2 linked regions of the Homo sapiens genome follow. The protein of the gene in region 1 interacts with the protein of each later gene in a pairwise test. Each region holds a gene or a part of one and is shown on either strand. Other genes may lie near its edges.

The links.
Region 2: the proteins of MGAT5B (region 1) and HR interact in a two-hybrid assay, tested with the Homo sapiens proteins (one large-scale study listed by BioGRID).

The regions. Positions count from the first base shown.
Region 1 is NC_000017.11:76,934,404-76,937,903, reverse strand, and holds part of MGAT5B (alpha-1,6-mannosylglycoprotein 6-beta-N-acetylglucosaminyltransferase B), read right to left. Parts: intron 1-3,500. UniProt on the Homo sapiens protein: Glycosyltransferase that acts on alpha-linked mannose of N-glycans and O-mannosyl glycans.
Region 2 is NC_000008.11:22,124,511-22,128,010, reverse strand, and holds part of HR (lysine-specific demethylase hairless), read left to right. Parts: intron 1-181; coding exon 182-974; intron 975-2,278; coding exon 2,279-2,429; intron 2,430-2,506; coding exon 2,507-2,700; intron 2,701-3,500. UniProt on the Homo sapiens protein: Histone demethylase that specifically demethylates both mono- and dimethylated 'Lys-9' of histone H3. May act as a transcription regulator controlling hair biology (via targeting of collagens), neural activity, and cell cycle.

The DNA of each region.
Region 1 (3,500 bases):
TCAGAAGATGTGGACCCAGTCTCAGGTTGGCCATTAACTGGCTGTGGGACACTGGGAAAGGCCCCGCCCCTCTCTGGCCCTGAAAACCTATGAATGGCAGAGATTGGACTAGAGCAGAGGCTTCAGGATTACTTTTAGCCATGAAACTGTTTTCTTTCCAAAGGAACCCTATGGGGACCAACATTTAAATGGATTCACGTGGTGCCACTTGGCATCTGCTGAACCCCTAATGACCTCTAAGCTCCTCTGAGGAGCTGTGGAGCTCTCTGTAGTCCATTCATCCATCTCTCTCTCTCACCCATCCCATCCATCCTATCCATCCATCTACCCACCATCCATCCATGCACCCACCATCCATCCATGCACCCACCATCCATGCATCCATCCATCCATCCATTTGTCCACCTGCCCATAACTCTATGCGTCCACCCACCCATCCATCCATTCACCCATCCATCCCTCTCAAACATCCACCCATCCACTCATCCACCCACCCATTCATCCATCCATCCCTCTCACACATCCCTCCACTCACCCATCCACCCATCGACTCATCCATCTATCCATCCATCCTCTCATTCATCCATCTTATCTGCCCATCCCTTCTTTCACTGAAGGAGGGGGACCTCTGATGGAAGCTCCATATTTGGAATTAGAACTCAGAGGAATTCCACCCTAGAGAAAAGGATGAAACAGAGCTAGACCAGTCCTTGCAGGGGCTGAATCCATTTTGTCTTAATCACCATATTGATCAAGGTGATCCGAGATTGCTAGGGCCCCCAGCTATAAGCCAAGAGTAAAAGTAAATTCTCTCTGGAGTAAAATAGAGTCATCCTTGATCTTAAATTATCTCTACAATTTTTCATATTCATTTTCCAGAACTCAAAAAAAAAAAAAAACATTGAAATCCCAATCAAACTCCCAGTACTTTTTTGTAGAAATTGATAAGCTGATTCTAAAACTCATTTGGAAATGCAAAGAACCTAGAATAGACAAAACAACTTTGAAAAAGAACACAGTTAGCAGGCTTATATTACCGATGTCAAGACTTCTTATAAAGCTACAGTAATCCAGATAGTGTGGTATTGGCATCAAGATAGACAAACAGATCAATGGAACAGAATACAGACTCCAGAAATAGACCCACACACAGTGTGGTCAACTGATTTTCGACAAAGGTGCAAAACATTTCAGTGGAGGAAGGATGGTTTCATCAGTAAATGGTCATGAAACATGATATCTACACGCAAAAACGTAAAAGAACTTTTTACTTATTATATGTAAAAGTTCATGCAAAATGGATCACAGACTTAAATGCAAAACCTAAAACTATAAAACTTATACAAAAAAACAGGAAAGAAATCTTTGTAACCTTGGGTTAGACAAAGATTTCTTAAATACAACACCAAAAGCACAATCCCTAAAAGAAAACACTGGACTTCATTAAAATTAAGAACTTTTCTCTTTGAAAGACATTGTTTTGTTTGTTTGTTTTTGGGACAGAGTCTCCCTCTGTCGCCCAGGCTGGAGTGCAGTGGTGCGATCTCGACTCACTGCAACCTCCGCCTCCCAGGTTCAAACAATTCTCCTGCCTCAGCCTCCTGAGTAGCTGGGACTACGGGCGCACGCCACCACACGTGGCTAATCTTTTGTATTTTTAGTAGAGATGGGATTTCACCTTGTTAGTCAAGCTGATCTCAATCTCCTGACCTCGGGATCCACCCCGCCATGGCCTCCCAAAGTTCTGAGATTACAGGCGTGAGCCACCGTTCCCGGCTGAAAGACACTGTTAAGAGAAAGACAAGGCCAGGCGCAGTGGCTCATGCCTGTAACCCAGCACTTTGAGAGGCTGAGGCGGGAGGATCGCTTGAGCCCAGGAGTTTGCGACCCGAATGGGCAACATAATGAGACCCCGTCTCTCTGTCTCTATCTACATATATATATATATAATGTATATAATATATAGTATATATAATTATATAATATATAATATATATAATGTATATATAATTATATAATATATAATATATATAATGTATATAATATATATAGTATATATAATGTATATAATATATAGTATATATAATTATATAATATATATAATATATATATGTTTAAAAAGAGAGAGACAAGCCACAGACTAGAAGAAAATATTTATAAAGCATATATTTGATACGAGACTTGGATCCAGGATATATAAAGAACTCTAACAACTCCATAGTAAGAAAATAAACAACCTAATATTTTCAATGGGCAAAAGTTTTTAAAAAGACACATCACCAAAAAAAAAAAAAAAAAGATATATGGAAGACAAATAAACACACAAAAATATCTTCATCATTAGTCATTAGGAAAATGCTAGTTTAAACCACAAGAAGACACCATTCCATGCCTGTTAGAACGGCTGAAATTTACAAGACTGACCATCCCAAGCATTGATGAATTTGTTCAAGAATTGAAAGCCTCGTAATAACTTTTAAAAAAAGTTAAACACACTTCTACAGTATTAACCAGCCATTATATTCTTGGGCATTTACCCAGGAGAAATGAAAGCATATGTTTCTACAAAAAATTGTACACGAACCAAAAAGGCTAGTCAAGACTCCCTGAGTTGGCTTCACAATTTATCCATGGGTTGCCACCTACGGATTGAAAAGTTCCACCCAAGCTCACCCAGATGACTGTCTGAGGGCCTGGAATGTTTCCTCCAGGGATGAGGGTGGGTTTGCCCCGGGCCTGAACCAGCTGCCTTTGCCTCCTTCCTGCTTCATTCCCTTGATCCTTCACCCCTCGCTTCCTGGGACTACACTCTACTAAAATAGCACCTAAGCCTTAGCCTCAGGCTCCACTTTCTGGGGAATGCAGAATAAGACAGACCCGCTTAGCACAAAGTTCACCCAACGCCTTGCCCTGGGTCCCCAGCTCCTGCTCCCTGGAAGGATGATAAATGACCTGACCTTCCATCTCCCCTCCTTCCTCCTCTGCTTCTCGGCCACCTGATCCCCTGTACTCTGGAAGGCATCTCTCCCAAGATGCTGCTTTCATTTTTCTCTCCATCCAGCCACCTCTGACTTCCTTTGGTTACAAACACCAGGGCAAAGATGTCTTTTTTTGGAAGCAGTTTCTTTGAGGTCTCTAGCTGAACAGGATTGCCTCGGGCTATCACAGAAGTTCCAGCGCTAGAGATAAAACGTTTCTCTTTCCAGACTTCATAACCTCTCATTCTCTTGGGCCAGTTTCTTAACAGCATTTTCTGATAAAAGTAGACCCTGTGTGTTCCACGACCCTCCGACTCTGCCCTCTTCTCCAGCACCCAGTGCCCACAGCTTCCCGGGCTTCCCTGCAGCTGTGGCAATCGGCATGGGGAGCCTCATCTCCCAGCTCCCCGCTCCACACCCCACAGTGACCTCTGACATCTCAGCAGAGGTCTTGGACCTTGATTCCTGCTTTCAAGCCTTCTCTCTGCCATTCTCCAAGGCTTCATAATGCTGAACAGGCTG
Region 2 (3,500 bases), on another chromosome or scaffold:
GAGGTGGGGGTTGCCAGGACAGTGTCAGAGGCACTCCAGAGACCTAGGGCAGTGCTGTTTATTAATCAGAATGTGAGGGCTTCAGTATTCTCCCCTTCCTTCTTGCTTGTCAGTTCTGCCCATCCATTTAGGCATGGGGAGCCCAAGTCAGCTGAAGCGTAACACTTTCTCCCCTCTTTAGGGCTTTTACTACAAGGATCCGAGCATTCCCAGGTTGGCAAAGGAGCCCTTGGCAGCTGCGGAACCTGGGTTGTTTGGCTTAAACTCTGGTGGGCACCTGCAGAGAGCCGGGGAGGCCGAACGCCCTTCACTGCACCAGAGGGATGGAGAGATGGGAGCTGGCCGGCAGCAGAATCCTTGCCCGCTCTTCCTGGGGCAGCCAGACACTGTGCCCTGGACCTCCTGGCCCGCTTGTCCCCCAGGCCTTGTTCATACTCTTGGCAACGTCTGGGCTGGGCCAGGCGATGGGAACCTTGGGTACCAGCTGGGGCCACCAGCAACACCAAGGTGCCCCTCTCCTGAGCCGCCTGTCACCCAGCGGGGCTGCTGTTCATCCTACCCACCCACTAAAGGTGGGGGTCTTGGCCCTTGTGGGAAGTGCCAGGAGGGCCTGGAGGGGGGTGCCAGTGGAGCCAGCGAACCCAGCGAGGAAGTGAACAAGGCCTCTGGCCCCAGGGCCTGTCCCCCCAGCCACCACACCAAGCTGAAGAAGACATGGCTCACACGGCACTCGGAGCAGTTTGAATGTCCACGCGGCTGCCCTGAGGTCGAGGAGAGGCCGGTTGCTCGGCTCCGGGCCCTCAAAAGGGCAGGCAGCCCCGAGGTCCAGGGAGCAATGGGCAGTCCAGCCCCCAAGCGGCCACCGGACCCTTTTCCAGGCACTGCAGAACAGGGGGCTGGGGGTTGGCAGGAGGTGCGGGACACATCGATAGGGAACAAGGATGTGGACTCGGGACAGCATGATGAGCAGAAAGGTAAGGGGGCCAGGAGGGGCTGCAGGCCCTGCGTGGGAGGGGGCAGCCGGGGCTGGGGCTTCGCATGGGGCGGGGTCTGTAGGCTTTATGAGTGGACCACAACCAGTGGTCAGGCTCCCACCTGGATCACGAGGGCTCTCTGGGAGTTCCTCAGCATCTCCAGGCCAGAGCCTTCCAGCAAGTATCTTCTACCTCTGTCTCCTCCCAAGCCCTGGTGTGTTGGTGGCAGTATAATGACATAGTTCAGAGCATGGCTCTGGAGCCAGAGTGCCTCGTCCCTGACTTTGCTGATTGGTAGCTGTGTGACCTCGGATGAGTTGCTTCGCCTCTCTGGGCCTCAGTTACTTCATCTATAAAATGGGGAAGAAGACGGCACCTACCTCAGGAAGACTGCTGCAAAAGTTAAATGCTAGAATGATTCATAGCAAGGGCTTGGAAGAATTCCTGGCACCCAGTGAACACTCAGTAAATGTTCACCGTGATGACTGCGTGTGCCACAAATCCCTGTTTGGGGATTGCTTGTCCTGAAGGATCCCTTGTCCTGCGCCAGGAATGGCTGCTCTCTTGGCCAGGTGGAGCTGGAGACTCAGTTTGGACTCTGCCAGTGTTAGGGCTCTGGGCGCACCCTGGAGTCACTTGCTACACTGTGCCCTCCACGGAGGACCCTGGCACTGCCGGCTCCAGCCTTAGTTCTTTGGGATCACTTCGGTTTTTTCAGCTTCCTGGACGGCTGGGTGTGGATCAGCTCTCTCCGTGGCCTTGCCCAAATGCCCTGCACCTGGCATGGGCCTGTCTGTGCCCTCTGCCCAGGCCTCTGCCCTGGCTGGGAATTTGTTGGCCCCTTCGCCTTCTTGGGTTACTGCACCTGTGGCCTGTGTCGAAACTCTCTGGCCCTTCTCACCTTCCGGCGCCCTCCGTCCACGTTGGGATTGTCTCCTCATGTCACGCAGCCAGTGGTATCACTAAGCCCTCAGTGGAGCTATCCAAAGTCTACACTGGCTGGATCCTGCACTTGTGTCAGGACGATCGCCCCAGCTGCCCAAAGCCTTGGGCTCAACACACCAGACAACCTCTTCGCTCGGCTGCCGGTCCATGTCACGGCATCCTCAGACTCCCTGCTCAGCCTGGCGTGCGAGCCTTCCAGCTGCCTGGTCCACTCTTGCTGGTTCTGAATTAGGCTTCAGAGACCTGGGGCGAGGAACTGGGCTGGCTCTGAGTGTGGATGGGGTGGGCGCTAAGGTGAGGAATGGGGTTCTCAGCAGCCCAAGAAACCCAGATTCCTGACCTCTGCATTGTCCCCTCAGGACCCCAAGATGGCCAGGCCAGTCTCCAGGACCCGGGACTTCAGGACATACCATGCCTGGCTCTCCCTGCAAAACTGGCTCAATGCCAAAGTTGTGCCCAGGCAGCTGGAGAGGGAGGAGGGCACGCCTGCCACTCTCAGCAAGTGCGGAGGTGAGCCATTGCCCCTGGACACCTCCAGTGCCCCCTCGCCAGGGCTCCCTGCTCACCTCCCCCTGCCCTCTCTCCAGATCGCCTCTGGGAGGGGAGCTGCAGCAGGAGGAAGACACAGCCACCAACTCCAGCTCTGAGGAAGGCCCAGGGTCCGGCCCTGACAGCCGGCTCAGCACAGGCCTCGCCAAGCACCTGCTCAGTGGTTTGGGGGACCGACTGTGCCGCCTGCTGCGGAGGGAGCGGGAGGCCCTGGCTTGGGCCCAGCGGGAAGGTGAACAGGACCTCCTGGGTCTGCGTGGGGTCTCTGTGTGGGGAGCCCCAGGTGTCCCTCCCCTGACCCCACCCACACTGCCAGCTCCTAGACCTAAGGCAACCTCAGAAGAGCCCCTGGCCTGGGTGGGGACATCAGGAAGGTGTCAAACTGGGTACAGCCCAGTTCTCTGGGAGTTTTTGGGCTTGTTGGGAAAACAAGAATGAGTGCCAAGTATCTGCAAGGCACTGGGAGGTGGGGGAGCTCCTGAGGGCTTGGGGGTCAGGCGAAGCTCCCGGGCCTGGAGGGCTGACAGGACCTGGGCTAAGGTCCCCTCTGGCTGCAGGTGCTCCCTTCGGTCGCCCTTCCGCAGCACAGAGAGTTCCTCATGACCAAAGGCTGCTGGTCAGTCTTTGGGTGGAGACCCCCGGGGCTCCCTCTTGCCCCAGACAGGCCAGGCCCCTTGGTGCATCTTCAGCAGGCTCCCTGTCAGCTCCTGCCACTCCCAGCCTGGGTTCCCAGCACACACGCCATCCATCCTTCCCTTCCCGGCTCCCTGGAGCTTGTCATCCCCTCGGGCCTTGGCACTGGCTGTCCCTGTGTCTGGAATGCCCTGCTCCTCCCTTTCTACCTGGTGAATGAAAACTTACTCATCCTCTGGGGCCCACTTGGGAAGCTCTCCCGCATTCCCATCCTCACCCTTCCCTGGCATTTTCCATCTCCAGCACCCGCCTCGTGGTGCCACAGTCATCGCTGTATTTATGGGTCCATCTCCCTACCTGGAATGTGTGCACTGCGAGGCAGGGGCAAGTCCTAACCAC